Linked DNA regions of Homo sapiens. The protein of the gene in region 1 purifies or fractionates together with the protein of each later gene. This does not show direct contact. Each region holds a gene or a part of one and is shown in the gene's direction. Other genes may lie near its edges.

Evidence for each region.
Region 2: the proteins of IL13RA2 (region 1) and RFC4 purify together in Homo sapiens (affinity purification with mass spectrometry; 2 studies listed by BioGRID and IntAct, with this or other methods). This does not show direct contact.
Region 3: the proteins of IL13RA2 (region 1) and MTFR1 purify together in Homo sapiens (affinity purification with mass spectrometry; 2 studies listed by BioGRID and IntAct, with this or other methods). This does not show direct contact.
Region 4: the proteins of IL13RA2 (region 1) and MTNAP1 purify together in Homo sapiens (affinity purification with mass spectrometry; 2 studies listed by BioGRID and IntAct, with this or other methods). This does not show direct contact.
Region 5: the proteins of IL13RA2 (region 1) and MAN1A2 purify together in Homo sapiens (affinity purification with mass spectrometry; 2 studies listed by BioGRID and IntAct, with this or other methods). This does not show direct contact.
Region 6: the proteins of IL13RA2 (region 1) and LARP4B purify together in Homo sapiens (affinity purification with mass spectrometry; 2 studies listed by BioGRID and IntAct, with this or other methods). This does not show direct contact.
Region 7: the proteins of IL13RA2 (region 1) and DNAAF5 purify together in Homo sapiens (affinity purification with mass spectrometry; 2 studies listed by BioGRID and IntAct, with this or other methods). This does not show direct contact.

Annotation. Positions count from the first base shown.
Region 1 is NC_000023.11:115,010,824-115,014,904, reverse strand, and holds part of IL13RA2 (interleukin-13 receptor subunit alpha-2 precursor), read left to right. Parts: intron 1-330; coding exon 331-484; intron 485-1,015; coding exon 1,016-1,136; intron 1,137-4,076; coding exon 4,077-4,081. UniProt on the Homo sapiens protein: Cell surface receptor that plays a role in the regulation of IL-13-mediated responses. Functions as a decoy receptor that inhibits IL-13- and IL-4-mediated signal transduction via the JAK-STAT pathway and thereby modulates immune responses and inflammation.
Region 2 is NC_000003.12:186,792,408-186,796,488, reverse strand, and holds part of RFC4 (replication factor C subunit 4), read left to right. Parts: intron 1-1,711; coding exon 1,712-1,831; intron 1,832-3,541; coding exon 3,542-3,685; intron 3,686-3,878; coding exon 3,879-3,999; intron 4,000-4,081. UniProt on the Homo sapiens protein: Subunit of the replication factor C (RFC) complex which acts during elongation of primed DNA templates by DNA polymerases delta and epsilon, and is necessary for ATP-dependent loading of proliferating cell nuclear antigen (PCNA) onto primed DNA.
Region 3 is NC_000008.11:65,643,497-65,647,533, forward strand, and holds the start of MTFR1 (mitochondrial fission regulator 1 isoform 1 precursor), read left to right. Parts: upstream 1-1,237; 5' UTR 1,238-1,288; exon of another isoform or gene 1,289-2,999; intron 3,000-4,037. UniProt on the Homo sapiens protein: May play a role in mitochondrial aerobic respiration. May also regulate mitochondrial organization and fission.
Region 4 is NC_000017.11:73,242,165-73,246,245, forward strand, and holds part of MTNAP1 (mitochondrial nucleoid-associated protein 1), read left to right. Parts: exon of another isoform or gene 1-79; coding exon 80-187; exon of another isoform or gene 188-258; coding exon of another isoform or gene 259-268; intron 269-731; coding exon 732-839; intron 840-3,003; coding exon of another isoform or gene 3,004-3,026; exon of another isoform or gene 3,027-3,182; intron 3,183-4,081. Other genes in the region: CPSF4L (putative cleavage and polyadenylation specificity factor subunit 4-like protein), read right to left, coding at 259-268. UniProt on the Homo sapiens protein: Critical regulator of mitochondrial DNA (mtDNA) abundance. Binds dsDNA throughout the mitochondrial genome without sequence specificity and controls mtDNA copy number by promoting its replication.
Region 5 is NC_000001.11:117,499,566-117,503,646, forward strand, and holds part of MAN1A2 (mannosyl-oligosaccharide 1,2-alpha-mannosidase IB), read left to right. Parts: intron 1-3,289; coding exon 3,290-3,405; intron 3,406-4,081. UniProt on the Homo sapiens protein: Involved in the maturation of Asn-linked oligosaccharides. Progressively trim alpha-1,2-linked mannose residues from Man(9)GlcNAc(2) to produce Man(5)GlcNAc(2).
Region 6 is NC_000010.11:826,948-831,028, reverse strand, and holds part of LARP4B (la-related protein 4B), read left to right. Parts: intron 1-51; coding exon 52-162; intron 163-1,294; coding exon 1,295-1,348; intron 1,349-1,434; coding exon 1,435-1,644; intron 1,645-4,081. UniProt on the Homo sapiens protein: Stimulates mRNA translation.
Region 7 is NC_000007.14:761,000-765,080, forward strand, and holds part of DNAAF5 (dynein axonemal assembly factor 5), read left to right. Parts: intron 1-753; coding exon 754-897; intron 898-2,806; coding exon 2,807-2,975; intron 2,976-4,081. UniProt on the Homo sapiens protein: Cytoplasmic protein involved in the delivery of the dynein machinery to the motile cilium.

The DNA of each region.
Region 1 (4,081 bases):
GTAATGTGCCTATGGTATATGAAAATTATCTATTTGATTCCAAGCAGATATAGCTCAAGTTTCTGCCATAAAGTTTTTTTTCCCTTCCAAAAGTTTTTGTTTTTATTTGGAATTAGATGTTAAGATTCAAATGATCTCATAAAATGATATGACATACAGAGGTGAGCTCTGCTGGAAATGTATCTGTGGCATTGTATCAAATAGTCTCTAGGATTGTCTTAGATATTGGGAACTCTCCAGGGTATTAATGATTTATTAGTCTTATTAATATAGCTCACTATACCATGGAGGTTTCTAAGCTTGACTTTGTCTCATCTTTTTGTCAAACAGACCATCATTACTAAGAATCTACATTACAAAGATGGGTTTGATCTTAACAAGGGCATTGAAGCGAAGATACACACGCTTTTACCATGGCAATGCACAAATGGATCAGAAGTTCAAAGTTCCTGGGCAGAAACTACTTATTGGATATCACCACAAGGTTAAAACAAAGCTCTCTTTTCATATTTAATACTATCAGAACAATTCATTTGGGAATAAGTCCCTTAATCTTATGTACCAGGCTGTAGGCACAATAGATCCTGTGACAGTGTGGCACAAAATAGAATCTTTCTTGTAGTTGGTGATTAGCCTTTTAAAATTCTTTAAATCAGCAAATACCTTTGGCAAAACCTGTATATTATTTTATTGATTTAGTTCCCAGTTTTGGGGTCATATTAGTAAACATTCATGAGTATTTGCTCATCTGCTCAGAGCATCCTAGAATAATCAATTTACTACTTTTGCATATGCTTATACTAATATGAGTAAATGAGCCCTCAAATGTTTTTTGGTTTTGCATGTCCCTCTTATCGTGAAGTGATTCCCAGTAACTTCCTTTTGAAATAATCCTGTTATGTTGATTGCAAAATAAAATGGAGAGGTCATAGGAAATGAAGTAAAATTGAGAAATGATTTCACAAATGATTCATCACCAAGCCTTTCAAACATTCACAGTTGATTTGTTCCTTAGGAATTCCAGAAACTAAAGTTCAGGATATGGATTGCGTATATTACAATTGGCAATATTTACTCTGTTCTTGGAAACCTGGCATAGGTGTACTTCTTGATACCAATTACAACTTGTTTTACTGGTAAGTATTTTTATAATTAGAATTCCATATTAAAAAATGTCTACTCAAGTTAGTCGATAGTATGAGTAAACTATATTTTCACTAAGTTAAATTCATTATACTTGTCAGAGTTGTATTTATGATGATAATTGTTTACAATTATTTGAGGTTTTCAATGGGTGTAAGTGGTTTTAGGATGTAGATACTGGAAGGTATTCTATGGGTGATATAAGGAATGCAATAATTGTTTCTGTACTGGGTTAATTTTGTATCCTTTAGATAGATGAATTTAGAACTTAAACAATTTTGACATATTTTATATTCTTGTTTTTTTAAAAAATCAGTTATCTATTAAACTGAATTTTTTTCTGACTCCCTCCTTTGTTAACTGTCACTGAAGCTTTTAAACTTGGACATTGTGACTCGTGTATCTTCTTAATTTCTTAATTGTTTTAGGGTAACATGATCACCATGTTCTGATGCTCCTTTGCAAGGTTGCACATCTGTTAAGTACCTACCATCTCTACTGTAAGAGCTCTACTTTAGGCTTCCCTCATTCCACACCTGGATGATTGCCATTGCTTCCAAAATGACGGTCGCTCTGCTCCCAATCTCTCCCCTTCCAATCTCTCCCCTTTTTATTCATTCTGCACACTGTAGCCAGCTTTATCTTCCTATATTGCCATTTTCATATACCACTCTCTTGTTCAAAAACCTCCTGTGTCTACTCATTGCCCCAGGATAAAATCTAGGCTGCCATACTGTCTACTATTACCAATGTGAATGCTCCACTCAATTTAGATCCATCTCTACATTTTTTTCTCACCCGTGTTATTGCCTTTTATACCTTTGTTTGCATTACCTTCTGGAATGCCCTCTGGCTCTATCTTTCTTTCACCAATTTTTATCCATCTTTTTCAAGGCTCATCTGCTCCCCAGTTTCATTAACCTTTAACTGATCATGTCAGCTTCTGTTTTGTTTTTCTTGAGCTATTACTTTGTTTTTTTTTTTGTTTGTTTGTTTGAGACAAGAGTCTCCCTCTGTCACACAGGCTGGAGTGCAGTGGTGCCATCTCGGCTCACTGCAGCCTCCACCTCCTGGGTTCAAGCGATTCTCATGCCTCAGCCTCCCGAGCAGCTGGGATTATGGGCGTGTGCCACCACACCTGGCTAACTTTTGCATTTTTAGTAGAGATGGGGTTTCACAATGTTGCCCATGCTGGTCTCAAGCTCCTTACCTCAAGTGATCTGCCCACCTCAGCCTCCGAAAGCGCTGAGATTACAGGCGTGAGCCACTGCGCCTGGCCTTGAACTATTTTTTTTTATAGCCTGTAATTGTTTATTGTCCAGATGGCATTTAAATTTTTTCTCATATATGTGTGCTTTGTCTCCTGTTAAATTTTTAAGGGATTGGTGGGCATGAATTGTTTATTATATTTCTCTTGCCTACCTCCAAAGTACTATACCCGTAGTAGATTAGCACTAAATATTTATTACATAGCTGAAACAAGTGATAGCACTGATAAACTGATAGGTAATTATCCAAACATATGCATTTACTAAATAATGGAAAAATCAAGAGAGGACTAAGCATTACTATTGGTGAGTTCTAGTTCCAAATTATCATGGCATCTTTCTTTAGAAAATAATAATAGATAAATCATAAGCTATAAACTATTAACAATCCTGAGATCTGGGTTCTAATCCCTGCTCTAGCATCATTTAACTTGGCGGCCTTGGGCAAGTAATTTTTTCTTTTAGAATTTTTGTTTCCTCATCTGGAATTGGATAGGTAAATTTCAAAGATCTAAATTATTTGTTCATTAATTCAACAAATATTAAGCATCTTTTAAATGCCAGGCAGTGTTCTAGATAAAAAGGACAAAAGCATGAATAAGAGAAAGTCTCTGCCCTCCTGTACATTGTGGTTCATATTTGATATAATTTGATCCTCATCTTGGTGAAATAGGGAGGAATAAACATTAACATTTTAGAGATTGGAAAATAAAGCCTTCCCTGCTGACATCAAGTAAGTCTGTATGGAGTTAAGCCTGGAACTGAAGTCTCCCAAACTCTAATCAAGTGAACTAACCAAGAGACAACAATTTTGCAAACTCTCCCTAAAGTAAATAGTTGGCATAAGGTTAATTTAGTAGAGTCCAGATATGTGTACAGGCACCTTATCAGCTGCTACATTGGCCTCTTTTCAACAGGGATTTGACTGCTTTTACAGATAATGTCATGGTTTGCATTGCAAGCTATTCTTTAGGAAAATAGCAAGCATTTGTTGCTTTCGAATTTAGTAGGGAATCACTCCTAGTTCCTTTTAGCTTTATTACTGGAATAAGGTTAACTTAAAATGATATGGTAACATTTCTCATTTAATAGATGAGAAAATTAAATATTTACTTGCCAAACAACTCCTTCTTTTTCCTTTTGCCCTCCTACAGTTGGCTTTTCTGAGGTTTATCTCTTGATGTGTATTGTATACTCCAGATTTTCATTCATTTTATTAAACATAATATTTTCTAAGTCTGCTTTAAAATTTGCTTTCTTTTAAAATAACTTCCCCAGTAAAATAACTTAAAAGGCAATATCATGCAGGATTATTTGTACAAATCACAGGTTTTCTTACTAGGAATCTTATTCTTTGATTCACAAACCTTGTTGATGAATCAATATAACCTAAGTACACAAGTAAGAATCCTTGTCTTTGAGATTTTGCGAGGACTCCCAACAAATTGTAAGCTCCATGAAATCGGGGACTATGTCTGCTTTCCCTACTGTTTTTTCCCTATTGCTTATCATAGTGCCTGACATATAGTAGGTGCTTAATAAATATTGTACATTATTAAATGATTTTTAAACTGACATGGTATCCTAATATAATTGAAAATGAAGTGCCTTGATACTGGAAAAGATTGTTATTTAAACACAATTCTCACAACACTCATTTTACAGGTATG
Region 2 (4,081 bases), on another chromosome or scaffold:
AAGACGCCACTGAAATCACCAAATGTGTAAGGATTATTAGTTATGTCAAAATGTAAAAGACAAAGGGAGAAGCTGCTATGTGCCTAATATTTTATTTGACAGCAATTTTTTATTCTCAGTAAAATTATAGAAGAACTTTTTTGATTATTCCACAACTCAATCAGATAGAACCAATCTGAATCAGCCTTAACAGTTGTTTATTATTACTTAGAGTAGGTCAGTCCAGATTATACAACTTTTTCTATATCCTTTATGAAATAATGTTTGTCTTTAAAGAACTTACTTTAACAGTGAATTTCATATTTAATATTGTGGCTTTAAAATAGAAAATAGATGCATGTAAATGTTTATGTCCATAAACATGCTTAGGATACCATGCTGATTAGGAAAAATAGAGATGAAACTAAATCACAACTCTTGTTTTTTATTTAAATGTGTGTGTGTGTGTGTGTGTGTGTGTGTAAAAGACTAGAGGGAAGTTTCAAAAACAGTGCTTTGACAGTGTGCCCACTTTTTTCTTTTGATTTCTCAAATTTCTCTACAGTAAGCATATATTACTTTTAGTAATTTTTATTAAAACTCACTTTAAAAACCTGCTCATGTTTTAATCCATTAATTTTCCTTAATCCAGTAGGTTTCCTTATAGCAAACTACCCTGTGGAATTTATTTATTTATTTGTTTATTTATTTATTTTTGAGACAGTGTCTCGCTCTATTGCCCAGGCTGGAGTGCAGTGGTGCGATCTCGGCTCACTGCAACCTCCACATCCCGGGTTCAAGCAATCCTCCTGCCTCAGCCTCCTGAGTAGCTGGCACTACAGGTGCCTGTAACCACGCCCAGCTAATTTTTGTATTTTTAGTAGAGACAGGGTTTCACCACGTTGGTCAGGCTGGTCTCGAACTCCTGACCTCGTGATCCACCCGCCTCGGCCTCCCAAAGTGCTGGGATTACAGGCATGAGCCACCACATCCGGCCGGAAATAATTTAAAATGTGCTATATTATAACATTATTTAAAATTACAGTATTTAAAACTATCTAGATGTCTAACAATAGAAGAATGTGAAGTAAATGATGGTACAGTCATAGGATGGAATATCATATGACTATTAAAATGTTATTTACAGTGGTTTTGATAATATGCCAAGATACTTATTATAAATGCAAAGTGGAAAATCGATTTAAAATTTTATATGTGGGGCCAGGTGTGGTGCCTCACACCTGTAATCCCAACATTTTGGGAGGCCAAGGTGGAAGGATCACCTGAGACCAGCCTGGCCACATAATGAGTCCCTGCCTCTACAAAAAGTAAACAAAATTAGCCAGGTGTGATGGCATGTGCCTATAGTCCCAGCTAGTTGGGAAGCTAAGGTGGGAGGATCATTTGAGCCCAGGAGTTCAAGGCTGCAGTGAGCCATCATCATGCCACTGTTCTCCAGCCTGAGTGACAGAGCAAGACCTTGTCTCCAAAAAAATAAAAAGAAAAGAAATTGTATATGTTATGTAATGTCTACATTTTTTTAAATGCATGGAAAAAAGCCAAAATGTTAACTGCAGCACTCTGCTGAAGCGAGAATGCAAAAGTGATTGTGTGCCTTCTATCCATGTTGTTTACTAGGTGGATTTTAAACGTCTGCAAAGTGTGCAAATGTTAAAATGTGATTTAAGCCTACTTGTGCTCTATGTTTCATATTTGTTTCATTTTGAGATAGGCCTGAACTTTTCCGATTAAGAGTTCTTGAGTTAAATGCATCTGATGAACGTGGAATACAAGTAGTTCGAGAGAAAGTGAAAAATTTTGCTCAATTAACTGTGTCAGGAAGTCGCTCAGAGTAAGTAAATTTGCCCTCCCTCCTCCATAGCATGTATTATTTTAAATATGTATTTCTGCCATCGCTCCTCAGCCTTTTGGCTAAGATCAAGTGTATTTCTGCCAAATTGTCAACTTTTCATGTTAGAAGACTATCCTGCCTGAGGTAAACAGGGATTTAATCAACTACTTATGCTCCTTAGGTGGCAAAGGTCCAGGATTACATTGGTGGTACCTAGACATATGTGTAAATTTTACATGAGCACATTTCAAAATTTGTGAAAGTGAATGACTAATTTTTGATATGCACCTTAAATTGATGGTGCAGTCAGTCACAACCGCTATAGCACCTAATGTATTTTTATGTGAAATGAAGACTGGGAGGTGGACTAAAAGACTCTGAGATCCCTTCTACCATTAATACTTGAAATCTGTTTTCTTGGTATAATTTTCATACAATTATGTTAATGCCACTTTTGGTGGGAGAAAAACTTTAATGGCAGATTACCAAAAATCAATGTACAGAAGGTAATAACCCGCAACGTGGGAGAAAATATTTACAAATCATATACCTAAAAAGGTACTTATATCTAGAACATATGAAGAACTTTAAAAACTCAGTAATAAAAACAAATAACCCAATTAAAAAATGGGCAAAGGCCGGGCGCAGTGGTTCACACCTGTAATCCCAGCACTTTGGGAGGCCGAGGCAGGTGGATCACAAGGTCAGGAGATCGAGACCATCCTGGCGAACATGGTGAAACCCCATCTCTACTAAAAATACAAAAAATTAGCTGGGTGTGGTGGCGGGCGCCTGTAGTCCCAGCTACTCGGGAGGCTGAGGCAGGAGTATGGCGTGAACCCAGGAGGCAGAGCTTGCAGTGAGCCAAGATCGCACCACTGCACTCCAGCCTGGGCGACAGAGCAAGACTCTATCTCAAAAAAAAAAAAAAGGCAAAGGATCTGCATAGACATTTCGTGCATGTGTAATAAGCACATTAAAAGATGCTCATCAACATCATTATCCATTTGGGAAATGAAAATCAAAGCCACATTGAAATACCACGTAACTCCCACTAGGATGGCTATGATAAAAAATACAGAAAATAACTAGCATTGACAAGGATGTGGAGAAATGGTAAACCGCATACATTGCTGGTTGGAATGTAAAATGGTACAGCCTCTTGGAAGACATGTCTGCTCAAAAACATGTACACAAATGTTCACAGCAGCATTATTCTTAATAGCCAAAACATGGAAACAGCCCAAATGTCCAACCGATTAATGGATGAATAAATGTGGTGTATCTATTTGCCATAGTATTTGACAATACAAAGGAATGACGCAAACACATGCTACAATATGGATGAACCTTTAAAATATGTTAAGTGGAAGAAGTCAGCCACAAAAGACTGCATATTATATGTTCCATTCATATCATGTCCAGAATAGGCAAATCTATAGAGATGAAAGTAGACTAATGATTGCCTAGAGCTGGGAATGACTGGGGGAAGAAGAGTGACTCCTAATAGGTACAAAGTTTCTTTTAGGAGTGATAAAAATGTTCTAAAATTAGATTGTGGTAATGGTTGCACAACTTTGTGAACATACAGAAAAACACTGAATTGTACATTTTAAATGGGTGAATTGTATGGTACGTGTATCTTTCAACAAAGCTGTTAAAACCAATATACATATTAATGTTCAACTCTTATGTGTTTCTCTGAATCAGTGGGAAGCCGTGTCCGCCTTTTAAGATTGTGATTCTGGATGAAGCAGATTCTATGACCTCAGCTGCTCAGGCAGCTTTAAGACGTACCATGGAGAAGGAGTCGAAAACCACCCGATTCTGTCTTATCTGTAACTATGTCAGTCGGTATGTATATTGCCCTGAAGACAGATGCTAGGCAGCCTTATTTTCATAACCCAATTAGGGAAAGGAAATTTAGGATTTTCAAGGCTACATTAATTTTTCCTCCATCAAATCTTGATTTGTTCTTGATAAAAATGAGTTCTTTTGGGGAAATTCTTTCTTTAGACACCAACTTGGTTTTTCTCATCTTCCACAGAATAATTGAACCCCTGACCTCTAGATGTTCAAAATTCCGCTTCAAGCCTCTGTCAGATAAAATTCAACAGCAGCGATTACTAGACATTGCCAAGAAGGAAAATGTCAAAATTAGTGATGAGGTAATTACTAATTATTACAATTATTAGAGTTACTAATTCCTTTGATGAATGCATATAAAGAGGCCCTGAAAGATTTAAATGT
Region 3 (4,037 bases), on another chromosome or scaffold:
AACACAAGCTTCATTAGCTTAGCAGTAAATACCCTCCGGAAAGATCTCAGAGGAAGAAATTAGTGCCCTTTGACAGAATCGCCACCGTCCATTGCTCCCACCCTTTCGGCTCCAAAGCTCCTGCTCTTTCATTCAGCCTCAGACAAGCACTCACTTCTCAGGAAGTATTCCCTGAGACATTATGGAGGCGCCCAGGCTCCCACCTCGATTCCATTATAATATTTGATTAAGTTTGTGTTTTTGTTTAGTTTGTGTTATCTCCTCGTTATCTTGTAGGCTCACTTAGGGCGTGGCTCAAGGCTTTTAACAACCTTTCTGCTGTCATAGTTGTCCCCCAACAAGCCGTTGTTGAGTAAATGAGTTAATGCTCTGGGTGAAGGAGGAAAGCCCTCACTAGGAAGAGACTTGTGCCACCCGGGGCAAGAACATCAGAGATCCAGTGACAGCCCAGCGACCTCCGGGATCAATTGCAATGGGAGGGTAAGAGAGACAGCCAATCAGCAACAGCCTCTTCAAAAGCCATACAAAAATACGGACAGGTTTCCTACCCTACATAGGAATCTTTCATCACGCCTACGCACATTACTACACTGCATAAGTTAGCTAGAAATGTAATAATCATATTTTCACGACAATTATTTGAAATCCAGAGTGTCCTAGAGTATTCAAATCTTTAGAAAGCACGTGCCCCAAATGAATCGGACTGAACAGACGCTGGAACCGAACATGGTAAAGTAAAATACTTATCCATGAGGCACTTTGTAATCCCCGCACTCCTGCTCTGCCTAAAGAGAAACATCTCGGATGTGAGGTCCGCATAGGCATTAGATCTGCCGGGTGGACACAGGTCCCTACAGCGTGGGGTGAAATGGGCTCCACATGTTAGGTTAACAAAAGCTTACGACTCGCAGCCTTTTTCAAGGTAATACACATCTGCGGCTACATTCAGAATGTGGGTGTCCCTAAACCCCTAAAGCATGAAGCTGACAAAAGCACTTCCCAGGACAGGACGGTGAAGGCACAAAGCAAGGTCCGCACAAAAGCACACGCCCCTCTCAGAGCTCCGCGCGTGCGCACACCGACTGTGACTCTCAGCAGCCGGCTTGCGGAGCGGTTGCCGCGTCCTCTGCCGAGCTTCTTGTGCCCGCCTCCGAGCCTGAGGAAACAGCTGATTGATCAGCCTGGCTCAGGCTTGGGGCGGGGATTGGCTGATTGGCAGCAACGCCACGGGACAGCCAAGCTAGAAGCCTGAGGAGCCGGAGAGGGTGCTGGCTGCCGCGCGGCCGAGGTGAGTAGGGTGGGAACTCGGAAAAGCGGTTGGCTAGCGGGTGATGAAGTCGGCTGCAGGCCTGACGGCGATGGGATGCCCTGGAAACAGTCAGAACAGGAGCTGAAGGAGCTCGGTTCGGGAACGCAGGGAGGCCGGCGGGATCCTGGGCCGGTTGAGTGTTTGCCCCGCGGCCGGGAGGCAGAGACTGCCTCGGCTGAGGGCGCGTGGGTCGGGGGCTCCGGAGGAGCTGAGGGAAGTCGGCTGACTTGCCCTGAAGGCTGAGACTCGCCCACCCGCCAATCTACCCCTACACCTCCTGCCCCCTCCCCCGACCTTCGGTCCATCTTTCGGACCCCCGGTTCCCGCGCCGGCCGCCAGGCGGCGGTCCTGGGGAGACCGCCCTTCGCGGCGGCTCCCTTGGGTGCTGCGCCCTTAACGGGCTCAGGAGCCGGACTGCGCGGGTGCACCGCCAGCCGGCCTCCGGGAGGAGCAGTGCGCTGGCTGATCCGCCGGGAAGTTTAACCAGCTTCCTGTGGTTGCTGTGTCGCTTTTCGCCTCCTAGAACTTCCCAGTGTATCTTCTGACCATGACCAGGGTTTGCAGGAAACCCCAAAGCCGGCCTTTGGGCATTAACAACAGCAGCATTTTATTATGGAAATCTTCAAACTGTGGAGAAATTGAACGAAGGATATAAGGAATTCACTGTACTCATTACCCAGTTTCAGTAATTATCAATACGTGGGCAGTCTTGCTCCCCTAATCCGGGTTATTTTGCGTTTTTGAGACAGGGTCTCTGTCACCCAGGCTGGAGTGCAGTGGCGGGATCTCTACCCACTGCAGCCTCCACCTCCTGGGCCCCAGCGATCCTCACGCCTCAGCCTCCCCACTAGCTGGGACTACAGGCAGGCGCCATCACGCCCGGCTTTCCCCCCCCCCCCCCTTTGTAGAGATGGGGTCTCCTTATGTTGCTCAGGCTATCTTTGAACTCCTTGGCTTAAGCGATCCTCCCTCCTTGGCCTCCCAAAGTGTTGGGATTACAGGCGGGAGTCATCGCACCCGGCTATCCTGGGTTATTTTGAAGCAAATCCCAGACATTATATAATTTCAATTATTTTACATATTTCTATGCCTCTGTCATGATGAATAATCATACATATAATAATTTGCTTTCTAGAGGGGTCAAGTAAAATAAGGGACATATTAAAGTGTAGACAGTGCTCATTTAGTTTGTACTACCAGAATTTAGGTAACTGCTACAGTGCAGTTTCATTATCTTGTGCTCAGGTTTTCAAAATCAGAGTTACCAGATAATCTAGACAGTAGTGCTCTTGCTTTTGAATAGTAATAATTGTATTGATAATTTCTATTTGTCGAGTTCTTAGTATGTATGAAGGACTGTGAAGTTGTTTCCACCTACTCATTTAATTTTTGCAATAACCCTATGAAGTAGGTATTATTATCCCCATGTTAGAGTTAGGAGAAAGAAATTTGGAGAGGTCACAATTTACCTGAAGTCACACTGCTGAAAGGATGGGGGTGGGGGTAGAATTCAGAATGCTACTCTTGGCCTTTGTCATTGCAAAGTTCTTGCTCTTTTAACTGTAACAATGTCCTAGGAGTTGTGGAATAAATGGAACTGCTGTGGAAAATTATTTCTGTTAAGCCACAAATCAGTAATGGAAAAAAAAAAGCCTGAAAATTTACACAAATACAAACAATAGTGAGAGAGGTATGTTTGTTCTTTGAAAAGTTAAAGATTATTACAACTAAATTTGATGTCCTGAGAAAACATAGCTCAACAAATACAAGTGCTAAAAATTTTATTCTTGGCCAGATGCATGGCTCAGCCGAGCACTTTGCAAAGGCCGAGGCAAGAGGACCCCTTGAGACCAGCCTGGGCAATATAGTGTGACACTGTATTTAAAAAATAAAAGTAAAATAAACATTTTATTCTTTAATATGTAACCAGTTAGAGAGAAAAGGAAAATATACATCAATGAATAGCCTCTACCACTCCTTTAGCACATAGCATATATTGGATATTAATACTAAATATTTCATCTATATCCTTCATCCTCCCAATCTTAAACTACTAAGACAACATCTTCATCCAAATAGTGTTAGATGAATAAGGAATGAGATAGAAACAGCTGGGCCTCCTCTACTTATTCAAAGGACAGTAGAGAAGGACTATTAGCTTGGAGTTTAGGAATCCTACTGGATAGGAGTAATTCAGAAGTCCAGAAGTCAGGTCAGAATCCTTTGTGAAGGAACTTGAGTGCCACTTAAAGAGTTTAAACTTAATGAGCAAAGAAGTGACATGATCAAAGTTATCTTACAGGAAGATAGATACAGGAAGATAGCTGGTACTGTCAAAGGTGGCTTTACCAGTCATGTGAAAGGATTAGCAGTTGGTTGACCTGATAAATATAAAGGAAATAGACGTGGGGAACTGGCAAATTTATGGATATGAGGAAAGGACCAGACAGAGAATACAGCCTGAAACAGAGAAAAGAGAATGGTATATAGTAGGATTTTTTTTGTTTTTGTTTCTGTTTTTTTTGAGATGGAGTTTTACTCTTGTTGCCCAGGATGCAGTGCAGTGGTGTGATCTCTGCTCACTGCAACCTCTGCCTCCTGGGTTCAAGCGATTCTCCTGCCTCAGCCTCCCATGTAGCTGGATTACAGGCGTAGGCCACCACGCCCAGCTAATTTGTATTTTTAGTAGAGACAGAGTTTCACCATGTTGGCCAGGCTGGTCTTGAAC
Region 4 (4,081 bases), on another chromosome or scaffold:
TGGATCCTTCGGCACTGGATGTTAGGGAAGGGGGTACGTTTCGGTAAACAATGACAGTGACTTCTGTTTGGAACCATAGTTTCTTTGTTGGAACGAAGCTCAACTCATATAAGGAGTTTGGAACCCCCTGCCGGACTTACAACCTCCAACTTCTCTCTAATGAGGCTCTTGGGAGCTGTACAAAAAGGTGAGGCTGGAGTTTGACTGTTGTCTTCTGTTGCAGGTTCTGGGCATTTGGAAAAGTTTCTCTTCGGGCTGTTAAGCAAGGCTAAAGAGGAGAGGAAAAAAATGTTAAAATGTGTGTTGTCTTCCTAGTTTTCCATTTGTCTGTGTTCATTTTGGAGTTGGACATAATTGAAAGCACCAAAGCTAATAACAGCTACCATTTATTCAACAGCTTGTATTTTTTAATACCTACCCCCAACTTTCCCTTGCCCACATTGATTGTGCCTCCTCCCAAAGCCAGAAAAACTCTAAACCTCAAGTTAACCAGTTGTATTAGCCTCCTCCCACTAAAGATTTTAACCAAGCACCCAAAACAAGAGTAACTAATTTGAATCTAGTCAAGTTAAGGTTCTTTGATGTTAGCCTTTATGTGTTTAAAATATGTGCGTGTAAATCTCTGAATTACAGTTCCATCACTCAGGCTAACTGGGAAAACTTGAATGACTCGCGGATACTGGCCCTAGTTTCAGTTGCTGTAACAACAAGCCGTGTTTCCTTTTGAACAGGCTGGATCAGGTGCAACACCACCATAAGGAAGAGTGGATTCGGTGGCATCACGATGCTCTTCACAGGATACTTCGTCCTGTGTTGTAGCTGGAGTTTCAGACGTCTGAGTAAGTCTTTCTATATTTCTAGCCTAAATAACAGGTCCCATTCCGTTATGTGGACCTCCAAGGGATTCTCTGAATTTTTTTTTTTTTTTTTTTTTTTTACAGCTTTACAGTATCTGGCATGCCCTGGTGAATGAGCTATTGCCTGGGGTTTCTGGGTTTTATTTTTTTGAGATACAGTTTTGCTCTTGTTGCCCAGGCTGGAGTGCAATGGCACGATCTCAGCTCACTGCAACCTCTGCCTCCTGGGTTCAAGTGATTCTCCTGCCTCAGCCTCTCGAGTAGCTGGGATTATAGGCATGCACCACCATGCCCGGCTAATTTTGTATTTTTAGTAGAGACGGGGTTTCTCCATGTGGGTCAGGCTGGTCTCGAACTGCCGACCTCAGGTGATCCGCCCACCTCAGCCTCCCAAAGTGCTAAGATTACAGGCATAAGCCACTGCACCTGGCAGGCTCCGGGGTTTTATTAGAGGCTTGGTTGTAATGGCCTGTATAAGATTTGACTAGAATTTACATAATTGCCCTTGTCCTCCATTTCATGTTGTCTTTTTTTTTTTTTTTTCCCACCCAGGCTAGAGTGCAGTGGCATGATCTCAGCTCACTGTAACCTCTGCCTCCTAGGTTCAAGTGATTCTTCTGCCTCAGCCTCCTGAGTAGCTGGGACTACAGGTGTGTGTCACCATGCCTGGCTAACTTTGTTTTTGTATTTTTAGTAGAGACAGGGTTTTCACCATATTGGCCAGGCTAGTCTCGAACTCCTGACCTCATGATTCTCCTGCCTCGGCCTCCCAAAGTGCTGGAATTACAGGCATGAGCCACCGCACTCAGCCTTTGTAGCTTTTTTCCCTTCCCTGCTAAAAGGTCAGGTACCTAAGAACTGTTACCCTGCTCCAATGGAAGGTGCTTTTCCTTGGTGCCTAAGAGCACCTTTTTGGCATTGAAACCAAACACCTTTACACCACAAAAGAGAGAAGGAGGAATAGAATACAGCTGTCACTTACCAATGTGTCTAAGTCTTATTGCTATCTCAGTTAATCTACTTTGAACACTTAAAAAACAAAGTGCCATTCTCCAAGTTTCAGCTTGCACTAAGTCTTAACCAGAAGGAAAATACCTTAATTTCATTTATCTTAATTCAAGATGTGTTTGTTCATTTCTTATTGTATTATTAAAAAAATCCTTCTAGTTAAAAAGATGAGTGGGTATCAAAAATATCAGCATTTTTGTATAATTAAATTTTTGTGCTGGTTTTTGTACAATCAAAAACCAGTATTTTGGGGCCGGGCGCGGTGGCTCACGCCTGTAATCCCAGCACTTTGGGAGGCCGAGGCTGGCAGATCACCTGAGGTCATGAGTTCAAGACCAGCCTGCCCAACGTGGTGAAACCCTGTCTCTACTAAAAATACAAAGATTAGCTGGGCGTGGTGGCGGGCGCCTGTAGTCCCAGCTACTCGGGAGGCTGAGGCAGGAGAATTGCTAGAACCCAGGAGGCAGAGGTTGCAGTGAGCCGAGATCGCGCCACTACTCCAGCCTGGGCAACAAGTGAAACTGCATCTCAAAAAAAAAAAAAAAAAAAAAAAACCACCAGTATTTTTGTACAATTAAAACAAAAAGCCCACTTTCAGATGAAAACTTCAGGTGTAAAAGTACAAGATAACGATGAATTCTGAAGGCCAGCATAATTCACACACTGGACTTCTTAAGAAAAAAAAAAATCACAATTTGATGCTAATTGGGATTCGTTTGATGAAATCAGTGCCTAGTGAGTAGCGGGTAGGTCCGACAGCAGGAACAAGGCGGCAGCACTCCTGCATGCTGGCTGGGATGGCCTCGCCGCCATCTCTTGTATCAGACACCTGGCCATGGGTGAGGAAAAGAAGTGCCTTTCTGATCGTCCTGCATAAATGGAGAGGCCCAAAACCAAGAGTCATTTCTCCCACAGAGAAAAGGGCTTTTCTTAAAGTTTTACCAGTCTGAAAGGGATTGTTTGATACCTGACATTAATGAACAGAGACTGAAGAAAGTGAAACAAACTTCTCATTGTGCTTAATACTCTATTTCTAAACTTATAAAACAAAAAGAGAATGATCTGTAGAGGCAAAAGATAGTAACAGTCATTGGAAGTGGCCTCTCGGATCCTTACATTTGTCTCTGTTTATCCAAAGAGCTGCAGCGGTGGCGTAAGTAGTGTTGACCTGGACATCACTTAAAGCTCTGGAACAGCAAAGGGCGTACAGTGGAGACGACTGCAATACATACTTAACAGTTTAAAAATGTATAATATTTGGGACAGGGAGAGGGGAGTGAAAAAAATAAAGAATAAAATTATTGGAATCTAAAATAATGATACAGGAAGTAAACGTATTATTAATATAGACAGATCTGGTTCTGTCTGGATGTTCTTGGCTTGCTCTCAGGAGCAACTGAGAATTAGAGAAAAACTAGTTTTGTTTAACCATAAAGTTGTTATTCAAGGAGATGTGAAGATGACAAAGTTCATCACTAAAATTAAGAAGTCACTTCTCAGTAAAAAGCTAGTATCTCATTACCATTCAGCTATATGAGATACCAGACTACTACCTATATGTTGATACAGGAAAGTATCTGAATTGGCAGAAAATAAGCCCACATCAGGCCCTTCCCCTTAGTTTCTTTGGGGCCCTTGACCAGATCTTGATAAGGTGTGAGAAACACAAGAGCTAAGGATGGGCATTCGAGTTGCAGGTAAGCCTCCGAAAAAAAGCTTACAAATATTTTTAAGCTGATTTTTAAAATAGCACACTAACTATAATGTTAAATCACATTTTATACATCTTAATTGAGTATAATAATGAACCGGTGGCTAATGTATCATCTCTTCCTGGAAACTTTTCAGAATCCCACCCCTATCTATCCCTTTCTCAAGAGTTTCTGTGCATTACTGAGAAATTCCTCTCCATTTGTTAGGGTTGTTTTTGGCTGGTGGGTTTTCTGTGTCTCTTCATCTCATCAAACTATTCAGTGTCTGATTTTTTGACTTCTGCTTTGGCCCACAGAGAGTAACTTGGATACTTACAGGTAGAAAAAGCTTTGAGGAAATTTAGGCAACGTTGATGGATAAGTGTTTCCCCAACCTCCTTTCTAACGTAGAGGGTTAGTTATATATCACACGCACACACCCGTCTGTCTCAGCTTTGCTTGTGGTGTCCTCATGCCAAAATACATGAGGTCAGTTCCTCTTATGTCCCAGCTCTTTTAAAACTA
Region 5 (4,081 bases), on another chromosome or scaffold:
AATATTCCATTTTATCTGCAAGAGTGTTAACTCATGCCCTCCTATGATGCCACATACCCTCACCCATGTTACCTCATTTTTAGTATCTGTAGGGCAGTTTTTATTTATCTGATGAAGAAACTCTTAGTCAATTTAAGTTTCTGGGCAGTAGAAATAAATCTTACGATATATATTAAATATATATTAAAATATATTAAAAATATATAAATATATATATTTCAAAGGAGGAATTTTTAATGGTTAGTTAAGTAAAGGAAGCAAGTGGTTTACTCTTAAAGTCTTTCAGGGAATCCATAGCTATCAGTACCTAGGGAGGAAAAAACTATTAGTCTTTTATGAAAGTATAGCTTATTCCCAGGGTAAGGGGTTGTTTTATTCTTTGAGATTTACTAATTGTGATAAATAGCACTAATTATGGTGACTATTCGTATTCAAATTGTTTAACTTAAGCTTACAATCTAGATAGAATGACTAAGGACATCCCAAATGAGGTCAGTAGTGCTGGTAAATTGCCCAGACAGGAATGTATGAGATATATTTTAAGGCAAGATGTATACCAGTTTATGTAAAGCGAACGTTTCACAGTGGCAAAGTGGGAGAGAAGATTGGAGCCATTATGTAGACAGCCTTACACACCAAATCAAAGGTTCTTAGTTGTTCAGGAAATAAGACGTGTGCACAACTCCCTCCCCGTAATACACACTCTCTTAGTTACTTCTGTCAGCTACTGCGTTAAGTGCTGTCATATGGGAAATGGTAACAGAAAGTTCTTTGCTTATCCAAAAAGCCCTTCAGATCTTACTTTTCTTTTTTCCTTAGCATCTTCTACCTGCAAAAGCTCCTTGACTTTTGAGAATTCCTTACAGAACTGCTAAATGTTTTATAAGGGGGAAGGAACTCCTGAAGGCTTTTTTCAGTGGGGAGTAACAAAGCAAAAGGATCTGATTGTAATCCACAAATTGGTGGGTTTGGGAGACCACAGCCATAACCTAGGAATAATGTGAGATCTTGAACTAAGGGGAGTACACTTATTTTTCACCTGTCATTCAGACCTAGATAGTCCTGCTGGACTTTAACAATAAGAGCATATTAATGGAAACAAGTGGTTACACAGGACAGGAACAGATGCAGCATTTATTGATGCTGCTTTTCCTTGGCCCCTTGGCTCCAGAATTGGGAGCACAGCTACTAGTGAAATTCTCTGTGTAGGAGGGTGCTGCCACAGTTGAGAAGACAGCCAAACTATTGCCACAGTGGTTTGGGAATAGAATACACACACACTTCTATTGTTAGCAGTGGCTTACTAATGCTTCCGTAAATTAAGCACTCTTTCATGTAAGGGAAATAGGTAAAATAATCATATAATGAATCTGTTTCACTTGAATGTCCCCTGATATTTAATGCTCCTTATTTACAGGAATGAGGGGGATATGTCTGAATCACGTGAGGAGTGGAAAGTGGTGGCAGAAGCACTTTTTGTCATTGAGGAATACTTTAGGATAATTCATCCTTTTCCTAATGTCCTTTTTTCCTGTGTGCTTTCTTCAAGTATGGCCCTACTTTTGTCTGTTAAGGAGAGGTGTGACAGGGTCAAACTTTAGCCCATGTCTGTCTAAATTTGAATTATAGGAGGTAGAATTTTGCTTTTGTAGCCTATATGCACAAACACAAACTCAATGTATAATCGGTCAAGAACAAGAACTAGAGTAGTTATACTCTAAATTCAAGTTTCAGAAGTGTGCAGTGGAAGTGATGAGAAGAGGGAGGAATGGAGGCAAAAGAGGCGGTGTCATATCTTAAATAGTATTTGCTCATGCATCACCATTGGCCTCTCCTCTTGGGTGCGAAGAAAGCAAAGGGAAGGCTGGGTGAGGCAGAATAGCAGTATAGCGTGTCTTCTGTAGCCTTAGCTATTCTGTTTACATATTCAAACTTCCAAACTTGCCCTCATGACTTTAAATGTCTTAAAGATTAGTCATGCCTCCCCACTACTTTCTTATTATTCTTAAACCATTTTGATAGTTCATGTGGTGGTGAAGACACATGATTATTGTGAAGAAAAGTACTTAAAAACTCTTGTATCCAAAATTTCTTTAGAATATATTAGAGAAAAGCACCAAACCCCTTAAATTTAGTTATAATCAAAATGGAGCTATAAAATGAGCAGATTGATTAAATAAACACCTTTTTAATGTTAATTAGCTTTTCATAGGAAGGAGAAGCCCAGAAGAGTAAGAAAAGTAGCAAGACTAGGAACAACAAGCCATGGCAGACAGCGATGGTTAGTTAAGTAACCATGCCTTCATTGGATGACCTTGCAGGGTTAGGTAGAATAGAAAAACAAAACTACCACATGTGCTTTCCACTTTTCATGATTGGTTGAATTCTGGACTGTGCTGTACCTGCATAAGCAGACTGTTTGGTTGCTTTGAATTAAAAAATAAGGTTGTGAATAGATTCCATTTGATTCAGTATATTTTATTTAGGCATGCCCAAAGATGCAAAAAGAGTAAGAATTTTAACTCTCAGTCAAGCAGTAAAGCACAGTAGTTAATAATGTAGAGCAAATTACTCTGTGCCTCAGTTTTCCCATCTGAAAAGTGAGGCTGTTAACCTCATAGAGTTCTGAAATTCAAATGTGACTGTATTTAAAGCTCTTAGAACAGCATTCAGCACATAGTAAATACCTTATAATTGTTAACTCTTTATATTGTAATTATTATTGTAGTAGGTGGGCTCTTTCTGCCAGTTGGTACCACCTGTAATGGCTAACTCATAGGATTATGATAATGCAATGTCTGGCATATGGTATGTATTTAGTAAATATTATCTCTTACCGCTATTACTATAGAGTGCTCCTAAGTAATATTTTTTAGCATGTTGTGGGTTATTGTTTGTCCTTGGAAGTGATAAAATTGCATTAAAAATTGTTAATTGAAACTGACCTCCATCTTGATTTGTTAGAACTAATGGACCTTTATTTTGCCAGACAGACCCCTCATTTAGAAAAAATAGCCTAAATTTGATTTCTAAGTTAGGAAAATATAAGATGTCTTAAAAAGATTAAAGAGTTTTGGAGACAGAGAAGTTCTATAGGAAACATCCTGTTTCTCGTATGAGTTAATTTTTCCAGTATGAGAATATTTCCTTTTGATAATATATTATTCTTAAGCCATCAAATTTTCATACAAATCTTTATGAGCTTTTGACTATTGTCCTTCAAAGTTTTGTTGTCCTTCAAAACTTGAAATTCTACGGAATTGCTTATTTTGTCTGATCTCTTTCATAGGCCATTGAAAAGTATTGCCGAGTTAATGGTGGGTTTTCTGGAGTCAAAGATGTATATTCCTCTACTCCTACACATGATGATGTACAGCAGAGCTTTTTTCTTGCTGAAACATTAAAGTAAGTATATAGCTTTAAAAAATATTTTTATACTAGACTGGTTTTGCTGTGTGATCACTAGATGATGAATTACAACTATGTGACAGGTTACACTAAATTTTGTTGTAAATATCTTTTTATGTAATTGGGTGTGTAAATTTTTAGCTACATCTCAAAAAGAATGACTTAGACTATAAGGTAGGTATTTTATCAAAAAAGTACTTAGTACCTGTTAAAATTTTTTGTTCTTTGCTCTTTAATGTGCATTAAAATCACCTGGAAGGCTTCGTAATACACAGGTAACTAGGTCCACACTCACGAAGTTTCAGTAGATCTGGAGTTTAGCTTAAAAATTTGCATTTCTAACAAGCTCCCATGTGTTACTGATAATGCTGGTCCTGGACTCATACCTGAGCTCCCTACTGTAGCTAATGAAATCTGTTAGGAATGATCATGCAGTTTTGATAGTACTAAATGACCATAGCCACTCATCCACCCGATGAGCCTTACTGTAAAGATACACATAAAAGGAACAATGGAAAAGAGTAGACAACTTTATTTTCGTCTTATACTCCAAACCCCAGGTAGAGGTCTCTGTAAACAGACCTGGAAGAGATGGAGATTGTAAATATGTCCACTTCCCTAAAGACTGACCAAATAAATATCTCTTCATACTCGCTCTTAAATTTATTATTTG
Region 6 (4,081 bases), on another chromosome or scaffold:
CAAAAACTGACATTGTTGAGAATTAATTTCTAACATCTCTATTTCCTGTAGGAAGTAGAAGCACTATTTAAAGGAGATAATTTACCAAAATTTATAAACTGTGAATTTGCATATAATGATAATTGGTTTATTACATTTGAAACAGAAGCTGATGCACAACAGGTAAGTTCTTTCCACCATCACCCTATGAATTGCATAGTTTACCAGTTTTTACTATTAGTGCATGTTGGGACTAAACTTGGGCATTGAGATTACTTGTGATGGTAAGTTTGAATATAATCTGCAGAGGAAATCAAGTTGTAGAAACTTAAATATTTGAGTGTATTTGTATGGACAATTTTTATAGCAATATAAAAAGCATGTGATTTTACTTTCTAAGGACAACAAGCTAAGCAACCTAGGAAAATCAGTTTTGTTCTTCTATCTGGGCAGAGAAGTTTTACTATTTGCAAAGTGTTTGGGGGGAAATTTGAACCTAATCTTCATCTCCCAGCAGACTTCATTGTATTTTGGAAGATGCTTTTAATGGTATTGAGAAGTAAGCTCTGTAAGGAGGCGTGAGGAGTTAGTAGTTTTCCTGCTTTTAAGGGAAGCATCTTATTTGTGAGGAAACTAACGCACATATTATAAAGTGTTAAATGGTATAAACAGTATGTGGGGTTCAGAAAAGAAAACACAGAAACCTGAAAGATGGGTTTTAATTGGATGGAGGGGGAAAAGGGGAACGGAAGATAGAGTAACCATTTTTGTGGAGTGGAGTGTGAGCTCTGCCAGCCCGTGTGGCGAATGTGGTCGGATGATATTGAATCAGGTGCAGGGCCTTCACAGTTTTATAGGGGTTTAATGTAGAATTAACATGGAGAAGAACAAGGAGATATATCAAGAATGACTTTTGGATGTTATGATCCTAATCCTTTTCCTTCCTGTCTGGTATTTCCTGAACTGCATTCTCCTAATCTGAAATTGGGATGAATACTAGGAACTCAGTATTCATCATTTTCCACCAGGTCAAGGTTCTTAGCCAGTGGTCTTTGGGAGACTTCTATGGCATCTGTTAATACTTACAAAATTGTGTACAAATCTTGTTTGTGAGAATTTGGGGTACACGTTCCATAGCTCTTATGAGGTTATTTTAAGGGATCTGTGACCCAGGGAGTGTCAAGAATCATTATTCTAGGTTCTGTTCACCATAATTTAATTATATATTTCCCTATTTGAGCTATTGAGTGAACTATTGGTGCCTCTTATTCATAAGGTTAATCGAATGGAATTTTGTACTTAATTTTGCCCTTAGGCTTACAAATACCTTCGAGAAGAAGTCAAAACTTTTCAAGGAAAACCAATTAAGGTAAGCAAGACCATTGGTTATACTTTGTTTATTTGCAAATTGATGTTCTTAAGTATTCTAATAGAAACTTACATATTTTCAAACAGGCACGGATAAAAGCAAAGGCAATAGCTATAAACACATTTTTGCCAAAGAATGGATTTAGACCCCTGGACGTGAGCCTGTATGCCCAGCAGCGCTACGCGACGTCGTTCTACTTCCCTCCCATGTACAGCCCCCAGCAGCAGTTCCCCCTGTACAGCCTGATCACTCCCCAGACGTGGTCAGCAACGCACAGCTATCTTGACCCACCCTTGGTACGTCATTTCTTTACTAGGAATTTATGTTGTAGACACTATGCTAGATAATTTGAAGGATTAAAATCCTCATCTAATAGGAAGCCAGATATGTGTGCAGTCTGACATACTAAAACAGACCTTCAAGTTATGTGGGGGATTTTAAATGTAGCTGAGAACAGAGCTTATGCATAAAGAACTTTGGATTGCTGTGAGCACAATCCTTGCACAGCCCGTCTCCCCTCTTGTCATGCAGCTCTTAGCAAGACGCAGAGGGCGATAAGTGCTGTAGTGTACCTGGCGTCCCCTACACAGAGTACAATGCAAGGGGGATTAACTGAGGAGGAAGAGGTGTTTAATAGGCTTCTGACAGCAAGGCCAAGGAGAAGGCCTGCTGTTTTACCAGCCTTATTTTACTCACTTCTCACCAGCATTAGAGTTGGTCGACAGGATTAATTTTTATGGATTTTGGCCTTTGTTAAGGCCTATGGTTGGAATTCATAAGTCTGTACTGGATCTAGACATTGTCTCTTTGTGTGCTGCTATAGATGCTTGAAAGATCAAGTGCATTCTGGGTGGGAATTAGCATGAGTTTGGTGGCATTGGATGCACGAGAGTCAGCAATACACGGATGAGCATGTCCTTGAAGCTGAAGTCTAGTTGAGAAGTGAAGATGGGTTCATGGCCTAGAGGTTTGCATGAGGTAGCAATGCAGGTTAGTTGGAATTGGAGAGATTGAAGGGTAGCATACATAGAAGGTTATGGTCAGAAAGCAGAAATTGAGTTAGTAACTTTGAGAAGAGTTCATGTCCAGGGTTTCGCTGTGGACTAAGGGAAAGACTGAGTGGTCCTCAGGGTCGGATGGCTGGGAGCCAGGCACCCTGATGTGCAGGGATGTCACCGCTGACAGGCAGAAAAGGAGGGTAGGTGCAGAGCAGAGAGAACTTGAGAAAACAAGTGCCTGTATACACGGAAAGTAAAGATACGGGTCCATGAAACAACTCAGGCTGGAAAAGTCAAACATGCCAAGGAGACACGTGTACAGAATGCCAGAACACTGACAGGTCTTATCAGGGATTGTGTTGTCATCTAGGTTGAGCTTTTCAGGTTAAGTATGAGTTTTTCAGAAGGAATCAAAGAGAAGTTTCATGAACAGAAGATGGTCGTAGATTCATGGGTGTCTGAGCTGAAGCGTACACCGGGTGGCAGGGAGTTGGGGAACGAGCTGGCAGTTTCCAGGCCTAACTGCGCAGGTGCTTAGCTGTCCTGAGGCATGTGGGCTTTGGCCTAGTGCTTGTGGGAAGGTGTCTGAGGTTTCTAAGCGGAGAAATGAAACCATACTCCATTTAGAAAATAGCTCCTAAGGCCGTGTGAAGGGCAGGTGGGGACAGGGAGAGATTTTCAGAGGACCCCAATTCCCCCTGAGTCTGGAACCACCGCAGTGTAAGAACCTTTGGTAAAGTTACTTCTGTCTCTTTTGAGTAAGTCCTGATGGTAAGAAAAGTTTCTGGCTTTTTGAAGTAGCACATTCTATAAAAGTGTACCCATAGCTGAATACTTCGTTTTCCCAAAAGCATATCATGAGAGAACCTCAGAGAGACTTGAGTCCGTAGGCTCTGGGTGTTGAAGAATCATCGCTGCACGTGGCTTGCCATGCTAGTCCTTTCAGTTCTTCCTGCAGCAGTTGCTTCTTCCGTTTCTTTAATCATGGTTGACCCTCTCGGGGATCCTTGGGGTTCTGGGTCAGCTTATGGCCTTGACTTATGTTGTATGTTCAGGTTGCGGTGTGTGCCAGACAGCTGGTCCTGCTCTGAGTCTGTGATACTGGGGCTCTCCATCGCAGCCTTTTACTTGTGCTAAAACATGTGCGTCCTTTGTTCTGCAGCTGAAGAGATTGTGCCTATTAATCCCCAACAAGTAATAATAGGAACGCATTAATAATCAACTTTATTTTTTATATATGACCAATTTTATTTTTTATCTTGAGCAAAATTACTGGAATATCAGGGCTCTGTCTGTAAAATGACTTGCTGGAAATGATTAGTCCTCATTGCTCTGCCCATGATTTACAGCCTCAGATCCAGGTCTGCATTCATGGCTCTTCAAGTGTGATGTATTTTCTTTTTCTTTGAGACAGAGTCTCTCTCTGTCGCCCAGGCTGGAGTGCAGTGGCCGGATCTTGGCTCACTGCAAGCTCCGCCTCCCGGGTTCACGCCATTCTCCTGCCTCAGCCTCTTGAGTAGCTGGGACTACAGGCGCCCGCCACTACGCCCGGATAATTTTTTTGTATTTTTAGTAGAGACGGGGTTTCACCATGTTAGCCAGGATGGTCTTGATCTCCTGACCTTTTGATCCGCCCCCCCTTGGCCTCCCAAAGTGCTGGGGTTATAGGCATGAGCCACTGCGCCCGGCCATGTGTGATGTATTTTAAAAAGTCCGATTCTTACAGAGTGAAGAG
Region 7 (4,081 bases), on another chromosome or scaffold:
CCACTTTTCTTTTTAACTTTGGAGGGCGGGGAGAACTTGGGCATGTTGTAAAGCAGATAATGCAGTGCGCCGTCATTTCCCTCACAGGTGCCGTGTGCATCACTAACGCAGCTTCTCCACCACATAGCTCAAGTGCCTGTTCACATTTCACAAAATAAGCACAGATTCCTTAGCTCCCAGTCTGTGTTCAGTTTTCCCATCAACAAGCACGCCCTTTTATGGTTGACATGCCGGCACCCTACCTCCAGCGCCTGGGGGCTCTCCCTGCAAGGGCTCTCCCATGGCTGCTGCCCCTCGTGAGCCGTAGACTAGGAGCCCCGGGCGGGCTCTGTCGGCCCTGACACTGGGGCCGGAGCGGGAGCCCTGTATTAGTCCATTCTCATGTCGCTAATAAAGATCTACCACAGACTGGGTAATTTATAAAGAAAAAGAGGCTTAATGGACTCAAAGTTCCACATGGCTGTGCAGGCCTCACCATCATGGTGGAAGGCAAAGGAGGAGCAAAGTCACGTCTTACGTGGCGGCAGGCGAGAGAGTGTGCAGGGGAACTGCCCTTTATACTAACATCAGATCTCGTGAGACTTAATATCAAGAGAACAGCACGGGAAAGACCCACCCCCATGATTCAGTTCCCTCCCACAGGGTCCCTCCCAGGATACGTGGGGATTATGGGAGCTACAGTTCAAGATGGGATTCGGGTGGGGACACGACCAAATTGTACCAAGCTCTGACGGTGCTGCCGGTCTCTTCCAGGACCTCTACCTGGAGCGCCTGCTGCTGTGTGTGCAGGCTCTGGTGTCTGTGTGTCATGAGGACTGTGGCGTGGCCAGCCTGCAGCTCTTGGACGTGCTGCTGACAATAGTGGCCCTCGCAGGTGCTACCGGCCTGAGGGACAAGGTAAGGCTGACAGTGGTGGCTGCTGCTTGACCTAGCGGAGCTCACAGCTGGAAGGCATCTCTAAGTGAGGTGAACTGTCTCCTATGCATCCCCTCTGTGCTTGACCAGCAAAGACCAGGGATTGAGAACCTTGCGGGTGAGTCCCCGGGCAACGGCCTTCGGGGCAGCTCTCCAGCTGCCAGTGTATTCTGGCATCAGGGAGTGGAGACAGCTGTTTAATGTTAGGGTCTTCAGCAAAGAAGCAAACAAGAAATAAGACGTAACCTTTAAACCTGCGCACTTGAGTAGGGTTTAATAGTGCACATGTCGCTGGGCGTGGCATCTCACGCCTGTAATCCCAGCACTTTGGGAGGCCGAGGTGGGCGGATCACCTGAGGTCAGGAGTTTGAGACCAGCCTGACCAACATGGTGAAACCCCGTCTCTACTAAAAATACAAAAAATTAGCCAGGCGTGTTGGCATGTGCCTGTAGTCCCAGCTACTCAGGAGGCTGAGGCAGGAAAATTGCTTGAACCAGGGAAGCAGAGGTTGCAGTGAGCCAAGATCGTGCCACTGCACTCCAGCCTGGGCTGAGCAACAGAGCGAGACTCCGTCCAAAAAAAAAAAAAAGTGCATGTGCATGTGTGACTGAGTCGAGAGAAGATACCGTGATTTCCCGCTCTCATTGCAGCACAGCGTTCAGAAGTACTTCTCGCCCATGGGCTCCCTGTTTATGCCCAAAAATCATCTTTTTTCTTCAGTGGAGTCTCGCTCTGTCACCCAGGCTGGAGTGCAGTGGCGCGATCTCGGCTCACTGCAACTTCTGCCTCCCAGGTTCAAGTGATTCTCCTGCCTCAGCCTCCTGAGTAGCCGGGATTACAGGCGCCCACCACCATACCCGGCTAATTTTTATATTTTTAGTAGAGACAAGGTTTTGCCACGTTGGCCAGGTTGGTCTCAAGCTCCTGACTGCAGGTGATCCACCTGCCTCAGCCTCCCAAAGGGCTGGGATCATAGGCATGAGCCACCGCACCTGGCCATTATGCCCAAAAATCTTTTAACCCCAACCTTCTAATGGGCTTCTAGGGCCCCTGGAGGCCCCAGTATCTGTCTGCCTCTCTGGAAGCTGAGACTTAGTTCCTCCTCCCATTCTGTCTCTGTGGACAGCCCCTCTCGGCAGATTCTCTCTCTGGGAGATTTACGGCCTGAATGTACTATGGGGAACCTGGTGTGGAGGAGGCTGCTGCCCTCCCCTTCCTTCTTGGGGCCTCTAAAAACAAGCTTCCCAAGGGGCGTGTGTCTCAGCAGATGCTGTCACTGTTAGGGCCTGAGGTACCAGCAAAAGCAAAGTCTTTGCCTGCTGGTCATGGGGGACGAAGCCAGGTAGCCCCAGATTCAGACTCCAGGCTTGGGGCAATGGCCACCGGGGAGCCTCAGCCCTTCCTCTGTTCCTAAGCCCCCAAGGAGAGCAGCCAGCTAAAAGTAAAAGGTGGCCAAGGTTATCATCTCTGTCTGCCCAGTTACTTTTACCTGGAGGTCTGGTCTGCTGGGCTTAACTCTTTAAGCCACTTGCCCGCCCCTCTCTGCTCCTCACCACCTCAGAGGAGCCCTGCCTGCCCAGGCGGACACCACGTCCGTGTAAGCCCCAGGACCACCTGTGCTGTGTGCATCCCAGTGTGCACAGTGCCTGCTTCATGATTCGCTGCAGAGACGGCGTTGGTGTGAACGGGATCAGGGTCTCGCCCTGCACCCGCGGCTCTCGCTCTCCTGCACCCTGGGCGGGGCTCCCTGTGGCAGCCTCCCTCCCGATTATCCTGGCAGGCCCGGCCTGTGTGGTTCTTACGCGTGAGGGGGATAGTGAGTCCCAGCAGGCAGGCAGGCTTGAGCCCTGAGTGTTGGAATTGTCTCAGTCTCTGACTTGTAACCTCCAGGCACAGGAGACGATGGACTCACTGGCCATGGTGGAGGGTGTCAGCAGCTGCCAGGACCTCTACCGCAAGCACATTGGTCCCCTCCTGGAGCGGGTGACCGCGTCGCACCTTGACTGGACCGCACACTCGCCGGAGCTCCTGCAGTTCAGTGTCATCGTCGCACAGTCAGGTGAGCCGTCCCGACAGCTGGCGTGCCGTGCCTGGCCCCACTCAGGCTACACACCTGCTCCCCCAGGTGCTCAGCAGGTACCAGCGCCGACCAGCTGAGCTGTGGTTCACTGAAGCGTGTTGTTAAAAGTACCCAATAGTCACTCTTGCCTGGGGAGAAGCAGCATTTTAAGGAGCATCGCATTGAAGACTGTGGGACGCAGCTCTTCCACTTGGCCCGGGCACACGCTTTCATGTGAAACCTTCAAAGTGTGCTTTTCCGTGGCCTGTTTTGTAGCCTGGCTTCTTAAATACGTCTGGATTTTGTTGCAGAATCTAGATGTCTAGCCGCATGGGTGCTGTGTGTGTGACATGGGGGCCTTAGCCCCAGCCCCTCTGAGACCAGCATTTCTGTGGTTCTCTTTGAGCCTGCGGATCAGCCACTTTTCCTGGGATGGACAGTGTGGCCCAGTGGGGCTTCAGCGCGGGGCAAGATCCACTGCAGAACCCTAAGGAGACGTCCGCTCAGCAGCCATAGTGCCTTGGGACACACGGCCCGCGCTGCTCCACGGGCCGTGAACTCGCCGCGGTAGCTCTTCCTCGTTTGCCTCCCCGGCCCTCCCGCTCCCGCCTGCAGCTCCGAGTGCCCCCGCCTCCTGTTGGATGTGTGCACCAGGGTGGTCGTGCTCTGCATCTGAGGATGCTAAGATCGTTCTTACACAATCTCTGTGCCTGGTAGGGACTCACCTTTTTTTTCCTGAGACTTGGAAAAATACCCAAAATTGTTCTTTGTCAGTTGCATTCAAAACTGTTTCCAAATTAGAAAAGAAAATACTGGCTGGGCGTGGTGGCTCACGCCTGTAATCCCAGCACTTTGGGAGGCTGAAGTGGGAGGATCACTTGAGCTCAGGAGTTCGAGACCAGCCTGGCCAACACGGCAAGAGCTCATCTCTACAAAAAGATGAAAAAAACCGCACGTGCACCTCTGAATCTAAAATTTAAAAATAAATAAAATACAGTTAGCCAGGCGTGGTGGTGTGCGCCTGTGGCCCCAGCTACTCAGGAAGCTGAAGCGGGAGGATCCCTGGAGCCCAGGAGTTCGAAGCTTCAGTGAGCTGTGACTGCACT